4 linked regions of the Homo sapiens genome follow. The protein of the gene in region 1 interacts with the protein of each later gene in a pairwise test. Each region holds a gene or a part of one and is shown on either strand. Other genes may lie near its edges.

Region 1 (3,581 bases):
TGAGGAGCCTGCGGAACCTAATCCGGAACATAAGGTCCTTTGGGTGTATCCTAAGAGCCTTGCCTCCTCTAGAAAGGAGACAAGCACCAAATCAACCTCATTGGTCCTGAGCTGGAACACTGGGACTGCAGCCTCCTCTCTCCACCCTGAAGAATGACTGTGAGCTGATCCAACCATCCACACGGGAAGCCCCTCCCTGCAGTTTAGCGATCCAGGAAGATGCTACCAGTCCCCAAAGCGGGCAGATTGGATGGTCCTGAGGCCCACCCTAGTCAAGTGGCAGGTCCTGTTCTCTTTGTCCGTATAGACGCACAACACAGCTCTACAGACTCCAATCCTAACGAAAATGATCCACCTACATAGTTATCCCGCGCGGACCAGCCGGGGTACAGTTGCATATGAAGCTGTCGCTCCTTCCGGGCCAGCTCGTAGTATTTCGCTTGCTCTTCTCTGGACAGTGCATGCCACTGGAGGGGACGTGGGGTACAGATGAGAAAGACATGAACAAAGAGAAAAGCATGAAAGAACATCACACATTACGCCAAGGTCAGGGGATAAATAATGCTGCCTTTTTGGGTGAGTCCGTCCAGAAATGGTATAATCTGTACATACTGACCGTCGGCTGGGTCCTGGCACTAACAGGAATGTTTAGACAAAACTTGATTTGTTATCTATGTCATTCTGTCATTTGCTCACTCGCTCGGGTAGGGGAAGAGCATGGCTGTGGCTGTTCTGAACGCTGAGTGCAGAATAACTAGTCCTGACTCAGTGAAGGCCATTCAAGGATTCAGAATGTGGCTGAAGGGCAAGAATTCTCCAAAGAAATGGGGACAGAGACATTCTGCCACCTGACCTGCTGCACTCTGGTCCCTCACCACCCGCCCCCCGCTTCTCCCTGAGAAGGGCGTCACCTACCCTCCGCCCAAGGATCTGGTTGATGGCCGCGCTTTCTTTCAACGTGCACTCAGCTACGACCTTTGCTCTCATTTCCTTCATATACAACATGAATGCATTAAGAGGTTTCTTTATGTGGGGCTTCTTCTTTTCTTCTTCCTTTTTGGAGTCCTGATGCTTTCTGGAGATAGACAAAACAGACGCAACCCAATAAACAAGGTCGTGGTCCAACTTCCTCCATGGCAGGGAACGTATCTCCTTGTCTCATAACCCCCAAGCCTAGCAGTTTTGGATTAAAAAGCATGCTTTTAGTTCTTCTGCACCCCGGAAAATGGAACAAAAATAGCTTGGGGAGGGGTTGGGGGAAGAGAGGGATTTTGCAATCACTTCCTCAAGTTTCACAAATATACAATTTTCCCAAGCCAGAGGGGAAAGCACATGGTTGCTGTCTTCACCTCGGCAGGGTTTTCTCCTGCTTGCAGAACAAAGCTCTAAATGTTCAATGATGCGGTTAGGGGGCAGGGAAGTGGTTGCAAATCCCAGTGTATCCAAGTACACACACAAAAAACAGTTCTGTTCTAACCCACGGTGGTACAGTGAGATTCTGCCACTGTGCACTCTCTCTCTCTTTGTAAGGGAGTGAAGAGCCCACACAGGCTGGGTATTGGCTGCAGTCAAACCAAACGAGGCCAACCTTAGGCAGAAAGCCACCACCCAGCAGCTGCAACAGGCTTGCAGAACACTGCGGCTACGAAGAAGGTGAGAAAAACAGCAACACTTACGAACTATGGAGTGAGCCGACATCACTCTGGGACGATTCCTGTTTGACTGTTGGTGTGACTATGGCCGGATGCGGAATGCCCGTCGTGTGTAGCGTATGATGTGGTGGGACCATATGGGGAGGGAACCTAGAAGACAGAAAGCTGTGTAAATCGTCAGAATCAAAATGAATGAATGAGGAGGGATGTGTACACACAATTAAAAAGAAAAAAAAAAACAGCACGTAACACTCACATGAAAGCAACCCAAGGCATATGAAACCTGTCAGCATTAATTAGCGATAAATTAAACATAATGATTCTCATAATGTCATTAAAGCCAATTCATTATTGCTACTGACATAAGACATTATGATTTTTAACATCTTTAGCAAAAGACAAATTCAACTGACGTACTTGGGCGGAAAAGTGGGCTTGGACTACCTGCCAGAAATCGCACGTCCACTTGTTTTTTGAGGCATTATTAGTGGCATCTAAGAAGACAATTTCCTAAGTCCTAATCAGCTCTAAAATGAAAGGTGAAATCTTTTGTTGTATATTGACAGCTAAATAAAATATTAACGTGGTTGAAATATACATACATTTTTGACAATGCTGTGCAAGCCTCATTAGGCCTCATCCTGTTGATGAAGTGCAATACAATTTTTATTTTTCTTTTGTGCTGTGTCCCATCATTTGACAGGAATGGGAGAGAGTGAGGCAGGAAGACAGGGAAAATTCAAATAGTTCCTATTTGGTTCATATCATAAGTCATGGACATTTTAAATAAGTTTCTATCCCTTTATGGAAAGATGCAAAAAAAAAAAGGAAAGGAAAGGTGCACACACACACAATAAACCTTTGATTCTGATTTGTATGCCCTTTCTCCTCTAAAATTTAGGATTCCTATATCACTTTTACTTCATATGTTGTCTAGGCATCATTAAGAAGTCTTCTAAATGATTATCAAAATTATAAATGAAAGATACAGTTTGTGTTTTCTCCTCTCATGCTGCTCATTTTTTGGACAGTTCTCTAAGGCACATTTTAGGACCTGAATTGGCATTTCCCAACCAAGTACATTAGCCAGGACAGAAAGAGCTAATCTCAACCTACTCTTGGCCCATCTGCAGACTGACAACTGGATCAAACACCTTTCTCATTTTCAATTTTGCGTGGTGTCACCATGATTTGTACTGGGTTGGAAGACTCACCCCTCTTCAAGCAACATATCCTACTATAGAAAAAATAGTGAGGGACAGAAAGGGCAGAATCCCAAAAGTAAACAATATGGCAGCCTCCTGCTCCAACCTGGCAAGGTGATTCAAGTGAGCAGATGGGAAGCTGTTCAGATGAAGATCATGGCAACTGTTGCTTTCTTAATAAGTCCAAACCAAAGCAGTCCAATGTACCATCCAAGGAATAACAATCTGCTCTTTACAAAGCCAATTCTGGTGGGAACTAGAGGGCCTAATGAGGATCGATCACGACAATTCTTCCAAAATGATTCTGTATGTATTTACAAAGTTTTTTCCAGAAGCGGGCTAGAGATAGTTTCCATTCAGCCAAAATAAGGTAACAAACATTAATTTGAAAAATAATAAAATGATTAAAGTACTAACTGAATCTACACAGATCAACAGAGGAAGGAAAGTTAATGCTGATTCTTGAAGAAGGCCCAAGCCACAGTAGACATTTCACTCAAAAATCCCACGCTGACGTGGCCTTTCCTGCCACTGCCTTTACAAATTTAAGCCAGTAGTGAAGACTGCATGACATGATTTTAAAAATAACAACAATACAAGTCCTTCGAATGTATCAAAAAAAGAGAGAGAGAAGGAAAATGTAAGGAAACAAACATGCTAACAACCTTCATCTTCATCCCCTTCCTCTCAAAATAATGTGAAAAACAAAAAAAGCAAAACCCCT
Region 2 (4,314 bases), on another chromosome or scaffold:
TGAAAAGACCAAGTCTACCATGGCTGAGGTAGCTATGGAGGGTTTTACGTATTAACACAATGGTGAGGGTATCTTTACTGGTGTGAGCACAGTTCCACTGTATGGATGATCGTGATGCTGGAGTGGTCGATGGTTGGTACCTCCAGTGCCAGCTGGGGATTTATGGATGAACACAGGTGAGTAGTCAAGTGGGAAAAATGGCAGCATTCAGTTCATCTTCCTATTCTTCCTCCAGGTGTCTTCTTAGAATCAGGATCAGGTGCAAACCCAGGGGGGTTCCTGTAGCAGCAGTGAAAATTCCAGTGCCTAAGCTATATATGTTCAAGCAGGTCAGGTGGATGTCGCATGCGTCAGTTTGACTACAGCAGAACCATGAGAGATGTTTCCTTTAGAGTTGGCCCACAAGACAGTCTGGCTGCAATCCACAGGCCACAGACAACTGGAGGGAGTGGATCTCTCCCAGTTTCCTTCCACTTAGCATGAAAGCCTCAGAATAAGCAGCCCAGGGAGCAGAGAGACTGACATTAAAGCCTGCAATTCCTCTTCCAATTTTGATCACAGCAGCCATTTAAACACAGGGTCTACCGAGGTTTAAAAAACTTGAACTGTGCTTAGTTGCACTCTGAAATAGTCCTGCTCCTCCCCTGACCTACGAGAGACAGCAAAGAGACGTGTCAATAGCCTCCGCATGAGGCTTCAGAGGAGCAGCTGTGTATGGCAGGACGGAACAAAACCTGCCCATAGTATCTTTTACGACAACATGTTTCCACTTAATGCAGACCACTGAAAAGAATGTGGGAGCTTTTAAAAAAAAATTATTATAAACATAGGTTTGTGACCTTGATGTGGAAGGCAGCTAGAATCTCTGCTTTTAGAGGGCTAAGCAACACCAGGCAGCCTTCAATCTTAGAAGGGTTAAGCTGAAAGGGTCTCAAAAGGTCACGTGGTTTATATAATCCTACCTGCAGAAGACCCCCCCCCCCGCCAGGCACAACGATTTTACAGACGAGGAATGTGAGGTGCGGAGAGGTTAAGGAAGGATTTATCTTATTTGCATAAGGAGTGGAAGAACTGAAACCGAAGCCCCAGTTCCTTGACTGTAAATCCCGCACTTGCTTCCAACTGTCTTTCATCCAGATTATGGGATTCAGCTGCCTCTGAAAACCTGTAGCCCAATAATGGTTATTCCCCAGGAGCCGCGCGAAGCATGAGCTAATTTTCAGTGAGCGCGGACTTTGGGGTAACGGTTCCAGCACAGCACATCCCTTTCTCCTCTTTTCACTCATCGTCACCGCTACCTGAAAACCCTGGCCGGGTGCTGGGGCTTGAGGAGCAGTTCCCACTTCCCAGTCTTTTTCACTTTTCACAGCTGCAAAGTTCAGGGAGTTGAACTGCAGTGCTTTCAGTTCACTGCTCACTCTGCCACGATCAATCTCTGTTGTAAATTTTCCTCCCAGAGCACGTGACGATGCACTTCTTGACTATATATCCCAACTGCAGCAGCGGAGTTGTCAGAGCGCAGAGCCGGACAGAGCAGAAGAACCCTCTTGGACTGGACGATTTGGGAATTCAAAACTTGGGACAAACTGTCAGCCTTGGTAAGTCAGCAAGGCTACACTTTGCTTTCAGAAACATTTGAAAGAGGGACATTTTTGCCAATTAATAGATGAATTTTTTTCCTTTATTTTCTTCCTGCTTTTCTTTGTTCTAAGGAAACATTGTTTTGAATTTAAAATAGTTTGGTTTTGGAAACACAATGTAAACTTTGTTTCTGCTCAGTTAAAATACGTTTCCCAGTTTTAAAGATACTATTTACTGTATGCTCCTGTCTTACATTGATTTTTTTTTTAATCAAAGTAATACTGCTCACTACAAACAGGACAAATGTGTACACTAAAAAAAAAAAAAAAAGTCCTTCTTACTTTTCCCAGTGAACCTTCCCGGGCTTCTCTCCCGTGCACTCCAAGCCCTCATAGCTCACTCTTGTCAGCTGTTTGGCGAACCCTCTTATGCTATTTCTTTCATGCACTTTTAAGCTTTTTTGGTATTGCAGTTCCACAAACCTCGTGCTCCCCCACCTCCCTGTGCCCAGGACCTGGGGGAGAGTTCTAACCTGCGGCTTTTTCCCCAGCCCCTGCTGTGGAGGCAGCCTCAATGCTGAAAATGGAGCCTCTGAACAGCACGCACCCCGGCACCGCCGCCTCCAGCAGCCCCCTGGAGTCCCGTGCGGCCGGCGGCGGCAGCGGCAATGGCAACGAGTACTTCTACATTCTGGTTGTCATGTCCTTCTACGGCATTTTCTTGATCGGAATCATGCTGGGCTACATGAAATCCAAGAGGCGGGAGAAGAAGTCCAGCCTCCTGCTGCTGTACAAAGACGAGGAGCGGCTCTGGGGGGAGGCCATGAAGCCGCTGCCTGTGGTGTCGGGCCTGAGGTCGGTGCAGGTGCCCCTGATGCTGAACATGCTGCAGGAGAGCGTGGCGCCCGCGCTGTCCTGCACCCTCTGTTCCATGGAAGGGGACAGCGTGAGCTCCGAGTCCTCCTCCCCGGACGTGCACCTCACCATTCAGGAGGAGGGGGCAGACGATGAGCTGGAGGAGACCTCGGAGACGCCCCTCAACGAGAGCAGCGAAGGGTCCTCGGAGAACATCCATCAGAATTCCTAGCACCCCCGGGACCCCTGCCGGTGGCTCCATCAGCCAGCAACCTTAGAGAGAGGAAAGACAGTTTTCAAGTGTCTGGTTTCACTTTCACAGTGCGGCTGCCACTTTGAAGAGACCCTTGGTAAACCCCTGATTCGGGGTGGGGTGGGGGACTAGGCTCAGCCGGAACCAGCACCTCCAAGGAGTCCGGGAGGTGCCTGTGGTTTGCACCCACCACTGAAAAAGCCGCGGAGATGCGCAGCGCGTACACTGACTTTGGGGCCTGGGTGTTGGGGTTCTGATCAGAATTTGGCGGGATGATATGTTTGCCATTTTCTCACTGGATGCCCTGGGTAGCTCCTGCAGGGTCTGCCTGTTCCCAGGGCTGCCGAATGCTTAGGACACGCTGAGAGACTAGTTGTGATTTGCTATTTTGCCTAGAGCTTTGTCCTTCTAGATCTGATTGGCTGTAAGTATCTCTACTGTGTACCTGTGGCATTCCTTCACAGTGGGTTACAAGCTTCTTTTGGATTAGAGGGGGATTTTTGATGGGAGAAAGCTGGAGATCTGAACCCAGCCCATTTGCACACTATAAGAAAAAAAAGTAACTTTTAAACCTGTTAACATTGGCCGGGGTTATAAGAGATGATCTTCTATTTTGACCTTTTGTCTAACTTATGACCTTGAACTCTGACCTGTGACCATGCAGCATCACATGATGGCATGACGTTCTTTGGATCAGAAGAGCTTCCCCAGAATCTAACCTGCACTCCCGATGGTGGTTCAGGAGACTCTTCCTGATCTTTCTAGAAGGGGTAAAGTGGGGTTGAACAAGGCCAAGCCGTTAGCTCTGCTGCTGCTCAGTTTCCCAGCCTAGTTTTCTGAGCTGGGAGAGGACATAATGTGGTATTTCGTCACGTAGCTGAGACCTAGAAGGGCATACTCAGGCGGAGATTGCACAAAGCTGGGCTCCAAGTTCTGTGCTTCCTGATCCCGAGCCCTGACACTCATTTGCTGTGTGGTCCCGGGCATGTCATCAAGAAGCTCGCTGTCTGCATGAGGCTCCCGACGATCTCCATCCCCAGGGGGTTGGGAGGATGTCTTTAGATTTTAGGACTCTGTGATAAATATTCCACAGCCTGGTGTGAGGAAGCTTGGACCAAATGCTTCCCCTTTGGCCGGTTAGTCTGAACAAGGATCTGCTGATTTAAAGGAGCAGTTGGAGATTCAGAACACATATAACTGGGGAATTCAGGGCAAGCTACCAACCCAGCCCTGCTGTAGTTTTCCCAGGACTGAAGGAAAGAGGCAGACACCACATTCTCCTCTGCAAAGTTCTCTGGAGAATGTGTGATGTTAACACTCCCAGCTAAGGGAAAGCAAAGTCTAAAGGAAAACACACAGGAATGCTTCCAATGTCTCCAAGTATTCCTGTGGTCAACAGTTTCGCAGATCCGTTAGGCCCTTAAAGACAAGGAGGAAGTAAAAGGTCAAATTTAAATCTATTTAAAAAAACTTTTAAAAAAATTATTTATTTATTATTATTTTTTATTTTTAAGACAGAATCTCGCTCTGTTGCCCAGGCTGGAGTGCAGTGGTGCAATCTTGGCTCACTGCAACCTCCACCTCCTGGGTTTCAGCGATTCTCCTGCCTCAGCCTCCTGAGTAGCT
Region 3 (3,581 bases), on another chromosome or scaffold:
ATTTCTTTTTTGTTTTTCTTTTTACGTATTTTTTTCCCTCCTCCTTCGGAATGCCTTCAGTTTATTTCAACGAATCAATTTTCACTGAAGATGGTTCCAGCTATCACTATCAATAAAAAGTTCAGATAAAAACTAATAAAATCATAACTAAAGCAAAAAGTTATCTGTTACAAACAAAATGCTTCACATGCACATATTTTCACCAGAAAACAGAAGATCTATTTTCTTGGCTTCCCATTTTCACCTAATGTAGCTACATCCTAACCCACTTGTAATCTGGTTTCTACCACTTCCTTCTCACTGCTCTACTGACATTACCTCTGACACACCCAATGACCTTCAATTTTCATTATATTGGATCTCTTATAAAAATTCAATACTCCTGACCACCTCCTTAAAAACCTCCTTCCAGTCTGACAGTGCTTCTACTTGTGGGGATGTACCTTTCTTCACTTGGCTCCTAATGTTGGGGGGAAAGGCCAACGCTGAAAACCCCAGAGCTTCAACTGACCCCTACAAAAAGGATTCCACAGCTTCTTACCGTTTCAACTACTGCTTCTTCATGAGAAATTCCAAACCTCAATCTCTAACTATAGTTTATCTTCTTATTCCAAAACGCCAAACACCTACTAGACACCCACCTGTGTACACAAGCATCTAAAATCATATTGCTCTCATCACAAATTAACTTCTCCCAAATTTCCTGCCAATTATGCTAATATTATATCCACCATTAGGTACAAATCTTGGTCATTCAAGACTCCTTGCCTCATTTCCATGCTTGGCTTCCAAAACCACTGTTTGAGTTGGACAGCCTTACTCCTGCTTGTGACTACCACCTAGACATTGTACCTGTAAGTCTACCCTAAAATGACTTTTATATCTGTCTAGTCCACCAATTTCTTGGCCGTTAAGCCTTCGCTGAAACTTTCACTGTCAAAGATTCTTTTGCTCCAAACAGGCTCCCAGTCATAGTGTTTCTCCTAGTCTGCCCTATTTCTTTGCTTAAAAAAAACCCAAAGTAAGCCGGGCACAGTGGCTCACGCCTGTAATCCCAGCACTTTGGGAGGCCAAGGCAGGTGGGATCACTTGAAGTCAGGAGTTCAAGACCGGCCTGGCCAACATGGCGAAACCCCATCTCTACCAAAAATATAAAAATTAGCCTGGCATGGTGGTGAGCACCTGTAGCCCCAGCTACTCGGGAGGTTGACGCAGGAGAATCACTTGAACCCGAGAGGCTGAGGTTGCGGTGAGCCAAGATCATGCCACTGCACTCTAGCTTGGGCAACAGAGCAAGACTGTCTCAAAAAAAAAAAAAAAAAAAAAAAAAATCCCAAAGTACTCTCTATATTCACTATTACCTGGCACCAAGACACAATAACAAATGACAGAACACACCACTTCATGTTAAGTTCCTCATTTCCCCAACTAGACTGAGAGTTTAAGAAAAAGTATTGTGCTTTTGTTTTATATCTCTTTGTGATGGTAAGACTTACTTTTACTTAGCTGGCCTAAAGGATTTGAAAAGACATTCGGGTTTAAAACATCAACATTGCTGGTGTTAATTGATGCTGCTGCTAATGGGATGACAGTTCAGTCCTACAGGTGTGATGGGATCCCATCCTATCCCATTAGTGTTTGTTCTGAGTCTACTACCTAGTATGCATTTCAGAACAATGCATATGTGGCAATGTAACAGCTGTACTATCATATGGCATGATTACTACAGAAGGGGCACCTATATGCAGAAAGAAGCTGAGCTAAGTGACCAGGTTCCCTTCCGGATTAATACTGTCTGGGTCAAAGCTGCATTTTGAGAACTTTAACACTAGAGATATAAGAAAAAAAACAAGTGTAAAAGTTAAGAGTCCCATAAAGTATTACTTAATGTTTAAGTCACCACAGAAAAAAATAAACATCAGGAAAAAAATTTGCCTTAAAGAATAATGACTGTAATTACCTTGGAATGTTTTTTAACTAGCAAGAGAATTTCCAGTAATTCAACAGATTTCAAAGTTTCCACTTCCAAATTGAGAAGGCACAAGGCTAATACAGATGGCTGTAAGAAAAAAGAAAAAAAAGAAAAATATTTTTTAAAAATTCAAAATACAAACTGTGAGATATATACATAAGCAAGGAATCGACTTACTTTTGCTTTTGAAAAGATGAGTCGGCAGTTGCAAGCTTTCAGCTGAGCTTCTAGTTTATCAAGGCTCAGTATTTCTTTCCTATACAATGCAAAGAACAAAGATTTATTAAACTTCCAAAGATTTAAATGATTTTAAATGATTTTAAATATTTGCCAGGGCCAGACGCGGTGTCTCACGCCTGTAATCCCACCACTTTGGAAGGCAGAAGCAGGTGGATCACCTAAGGTCAGGAGTTCGAGACCAGCCTGACCAACATGGAAAAACCCTGTCTCTACTAAAAATATAAAATTAGCCAGGTGTGGTGGCGCACGCCTGTAATCCCAGCTACTTGGGAGGCTGACGCAGGAGAATCGCTTGAACCCGGGAAGTGGAGGTTGCAGTGAGCCGAGATCACGCCATTGCACTCCAGCCTGGGCAACAAGAGCGAAATTCCTTCTCCAAAAAAAAAAAAAAAAAAAGATTTACCAATAAAGTCAAAGTTGAAAGTTTGAAGAAGGTAAAAATATAAATTTCATTGCCATTCCAATTATTTACTGTTAGCTATAGCAATGTTCAAAGTACAAAATGTATCTTTAATCCCACTGACCTTTCTGAAGTATGACAAAGTATAATAGTATGGTATAAGTGCAAAAAGTTTAAGGCAGTAGTAGCTTCCAATTCATAGTGCAATTTTTCTGAAATTATTTTTTCCATCCGTTTTATGTCAGAAGCAGTACATTTACACTGACTAATCCGGATCACATCATGAGTGGATGGAATATTGCAGTCTTCTTCAACTATTCTAGCAGCCAGCAAAAAAGAACAGACTCCAATGCAAGACAAATGTTTAGGTTTCACCTGAGAAAAAAACAAGAGGCTTCTTTTAACAACTGTCACTTTGACTTAGCAGATACTTAGAATATTGTAATGATGCTCCTATTCTTAAGACAGAACACAATCAAGTTGTTTCTCTTATATGTACTGGCTCTTTACCCACAATTATACACATTTTCACATTTTAGACGTTCTCGACCTCCCCCCCCCCCCAAAAAAAAAGGCAGCAGGGAACAGTGGCTCATGCCTGTAATCCCAGGACTTTGGGAGGCTGAGGTGGGAGGACTGCTTGAGGCCAGGAGTTTGAGAACACTCTGGCCAACATAGCAAGACTATTCTGGCCAACACAGCAAGCCTCCATCTCTATTTAAAAAAAAAAAAAAAAGTTTTTTGAACCTTTAAATTATGTAAATTCAAATGCAGGTACAAAAATTTCCATGCAGGTTCAAAAGCTAGATTCCTAGCACTAAAGTATAATTTGTATTTCAGACTTATGAAATTCATAATATAATCTCTCCCAAAATAAATTAAGCTTTTTAACACCAAAAAAAAATGTACTGGGATATTAAAATATTTTATACTTATCTTTTTACATAAAAATCTTTAAGAGTCATTCCA
Region 4 (3,581 bases), on another chromosome or scaffold:
TGGAAGGCAGAGGTGGGAGGATCGCTTGAGCCCAGGAGTTCAAGCTTGCAGTGGGCCACGACTGCACCACTACACTCCAGCCTGGGGGACAGGGGGAGACCCTGTCTCAAAACAAAAAAACTAAAAACAAAAGAACACCCTGAGGATCACAGCTCCCCCGTGTGTCCTGTGAGGGTGGGGCGATGGGAGTGGGGAAGGGCCTGGGGTCCAGCCCCACCCTGGCTGTGCCTCCCGCATCCCTGCAGGGACTTCCAGCTGCTCATTTGCCTGGGGATCCGGTCACCTGTGGATATCCAAACACCAGGTGTCCTGAGCTTCGCTGCCCCATCACACAGGCTGGGGACCATCTGAGGCCCACAGAGGCACCTCCCACCTCACTGTCCTATCCACCTGCTCATCAAGTCCTACCCCATGTGTTGCCTTCTCAGTGCCTGCCCAGGACTCTCGGCCAGGCTGGGGTGGGGGCAAAAAGGGGACTGGGGCTAACAGATCCCCCACGCCAACTCCACGCCTCATAGGTACCAAGAGTTCTGCGGGGGTCAACAGCATCCAACCAACTGCCTGATCAGTCAGGCCCCCCACCTTCAGAAGGGTGTCAAATCAAGGCCATTTGTACACAAACCCTAGGGCAGCTGAGCAGCCCTGGAACACTGTGAGTCAGGAGGATAATGTGGGCCAACCGAAGCCACGCCTGCTTCTTCCATCCCAGACCGCCAACAGCTGTGAGCAGCTCTGAGATCCAAAAATTACCTCTGACCAGTACCACACTGGACACCCACCCAAGCAGAACAGGCACTCGCTGGTAACTCGACACTGGGCTGTGGGGGATCAAGAGAGAAGCAGGGCCTCAGGGGACCTGGAATCTTCTCTCCCAGATCATTTCCTGTTGTTTCGGAGGAGTTTCAATCAACCAGTCTCAATCTGACCCCTGCATCTGACCATGTGAGTTAGATCCAAAGCATAATATTAGATATAAACCAAGAGCAAACTCTTGCAAAATCTCGTTAACCTTCAACTCGAATGTTCCCAGGGAAGGCAACGCTGCGGGTTAAAACTGCTCAGCCTTGAATCCAGCTCCCTCCCTTACTAAGACTCAAGGAGGCTCACTTCCTTCATCTGTAAAAATGGGGGAAGAGGCCGGGAGCAGTGGCTCATGGGTGTAATCTCAGCACTTTGGGAGGCTGAAGTGGGCAGACATCACTTCAGTCCAGGAGTTCGAGACCAGCCTGGCCAACATGGTAAAACCCAGTCTCCACTAAAAATACAAAAATTAGCTGGGCATGGTGGCGGGCACCTGAAATCCCAGCTACTCAGGAGGCTGAGGTGAGAGAATCACTTGAACCCGGGAGGCAGAGGTTGCAGTGAGCCAAGATCGTGCCACTGTACTCCATCCTGGGTGACAGAGTGAGACTGTCTAAAAAAAAAAAAAAAGCCAGGCATGGTGGCTCATGCCTGTAATCCCAGCACTTTGAGAGGCCGAGGCAGGTGGATCACCTGAGGTTGGGAGTTTGAGACCAGCCTGACCAACATGGAGAAAGCCCGTCTCTACTAAAAATACAAAATTAACCAGGCATGGTGACGTATGCCTGTAATCCCAGCTACTCGGGAGGCTGAGGCAGGAGAATCACTTGAACCCAGGAGGCAGAGGTTGCAGTGAGCTGAGATCATGCCATTGCACTCTAGCCTGGGCAACAAGAGCGAAACTCTGTCTCAAAAAAAAAAAAAATGGGGGAAGATTGATGAGATAATCCAGGAAAAGTGCTTACATTAGCACACTGACCACAGGAAAAAACAGAAGCTTCAAAATTAAACAAAAGGAAAAGTTATCACACCAGGATTGGGAGAACATTCTTTTTCAAAGGAACCACACACTCCTCCAGGCTGACACGGTGCCCGATGGCCAACACGCCACCACATCCACCACCTCTCTTCAGGAGAGACACATGCCTGCCGGAGTAACTGGTGCAGATGGATGGAGCTGGCTCAGTTCACAGGCCTCAGATACCGTTTGTTGCCTGGGACAGCTGCTAAAACTAAATTTTTTCCAGGTGAGTTAAACCTCCATAAAGATTATGGTGTAGATCAGCGGCATGCCCCATGTTCCAAGGCATGCAGAGAAACACAGGTCACATGGCCTGCGGGGACCATGCCCTGGACACCCAGGAAGGATATGGCCACGTGCTCTTTCTAAGACTACAGATGCTCAGAGAGATTCTGTACCACTCCTTGGGTGGAAGCTTCCAGAATGTCAGCCTGCTAGCTGTAAACATCGCAGAAGCTTTGGGCAATGCCTGATCCCATCCCCAGCAGCCTGTGAGCCACGAGGATCTTAATTCCCAGGTTGCTGAGCAAGCAGACTGTCACAGAGGGGAGACTGGGGGCTGGGAACCGGGAGGCCTGGAGTCTGCTTCTGATCTCATGGTTGAGAGTTTTCCCACCCGGAGCAAGTCCGGGCCTCAGTTTTTTCATTTATAAACTGAATGGAGGATTTGGCCTGCAGTTAAGAGCAGGCTTCCCCAATCCCACCCTGTGTAAGGGCATTGCTCTGGCAAAATTTCCACTGGGTTGCAACAAAATAGGGTGAAAGCAAAGCAGGATCCAGGGACCTCTACAAAGCCGGCCCGATTCCATCTACAATACTGTCTTTTATTGTGAGACCGCGTCCTTCCAAAATCCGGGGCATTAAAATGTCCCCTACCTCTGTGAAGTGGTGACGATATGAGATGGTGGTTGAATGGGTGTCTGTTTTTTATTTTAATATCCTCATCGGGCAAATGAGGATATTTTAAGTTGGCAAAGCTCCGTGAATAGCTGGGGATGAAGTAAAGGCATGTGATCAGAAGCCAGCCTCAATTTCCTTGATTTCCTCTGCTCAAGCTCAAAAACTCAGAGGCAGCTGAGGGCGTCAGGAGTTTTTAAAAGTGAATGGGAGCTTGAGGCTTCATCCTGTGTGCCTCCCGGACTCACCACACAAAAGGATCATGCCCCCACCCCACCTGCCCCACAGCATTGTCTAAAGCTACAGCAAAGAGTTGGAGTGGCCTCCGTGGTGTCCAGAACCAAGGAACCGAAAAGCCTGAAATGCAACAAGATGTCAACCACAGAGACCCTGATGGAAAGTTCCAACCAAACAGGACTGGGCGACTCCACCCAACCCCCACCTGCACCCTGCCCCTCCTGAGTAGCTGGGATTACAGGCGCCTACCACCACGCCTGGCTAATTTTTTGTATTTTTAGTAGAGACGGAGTTTTACTATGTTGTCTGGGAAGCCACCAGGGGTCCAGCCAGATTGGCCTATGTCCCTGCATCCCTTACAGTTCCAGGATGAGGACAGACTCGTGTCCCCTCTTCAAGACCACCTGGCCTCTGCAGGAGGAAGCAGGGCGAACTGGAGCCTGCTCTTAGGGCTCCTGGCCCCATCCCCAACACAAGACCTGACTGTGTCCACTGCTGAGCCTGTTCCCAGCATCTGTCATGGAGATGACAGGGGTCTTGGATGGTGAACCAGCCGGGAGGAGGCAGCAAGAGAGAAGGAGCAGAAGGTACCTCTCTGGGAAGGCGAGAAGCATTCTCCCCACAG

Evidence for each region. Proteins that work in one complex are often made in the same cells at the same time.
Region 2: the proteins of TCF7L2 (region 1) and KCNE4 interact in a two-hybrid assay, tested with the Homo sapiens proteins (one large-scale study listed by BioGRID and IntAct).
Region 3: the proteins of TCF7L2 (region 1) and CCNG2 interact in a two-hybrid assay, tested with the Homo sapiens proteins (one large-scale study listed by BioGRID).
Region 4: the proteins of TCF7L2 (region 1) and FBLN1 interact in a two-hybrid assay, tested with the Homo sapiens proteins (one large-scale study listed by BioGRID and IntAct).

Annotation. Positions count from the first base shown.
Region 1 is NC_000010.11:113,149,219-113,152,799, reverse strand, and holds part of TCF7L2 (transcription factor 7-like 2), read right to left. Parts: intron 1,818-3,581; coding exon of another isoform or gene 1,803-1,817; coding exon 1,677-1,802; intron 1,076-1,676; coding exon 916-1,075; intron 468-915; coding exon 360-467; intron 1-359. UniProt on the Homo sapiens protein: Participates in the Wnt signaling pathway and modulates MYC expression by binding to its promoter in a sequence-specific manner. Acts as a repressor in the absence of CTNNB1, and as activator in its presence.
Region 2 is NC_000002.12:223,050,677-223,054,990, forward strand, and holds the start of KCNE4 (potassium voltage-gated channel subfamily E member 4), read left to right. Parts: upstream 1-1,513; 5' UTR 1,514-1,598; intron 1,599-2,131; 5' UTR 2,132-2,154; coding exon 2,155-2,667; 3' UTR 2,668-4,314. UniProt on the Homo sapiens protein: Ancillary protein that functions as a regulatory subunit of the voltage-gated potassium (Kv) channel complex composed of pore-forming and potassium-conducting alpha subunits and of regulatory beta subunits.
Region 3 is NC_000004.12:77,160,127-77,163,707, reverse strand, and holds part of CCNG2 (cyclin-G2), read right to left. Parts: intron 2,988-3,581; coding exon 2,737-2,987; intron 2,229-2,736; coding exon 2,150-2,228; intron 2,060-2,149; coding exon 1,961-2,059; intron 1-1,960. UniProt on the Homo sapiens protein: May play a role in growth regulation and in negative regulation of cell cycle progression.
Region 4 is NC_000022.11:45,509,303-45,512,883, reverse strand, and holds part of FBLN1 (fibulin-1 isoform D precursor), read right to left. Parts: intron 1-3,581. UniProt on the Homo sapiens protein: Incorporated into fibronectin-containing matrix fibers. May play a role in cell adhesion and migration along protein fibers within the extracellular matrix (ECM).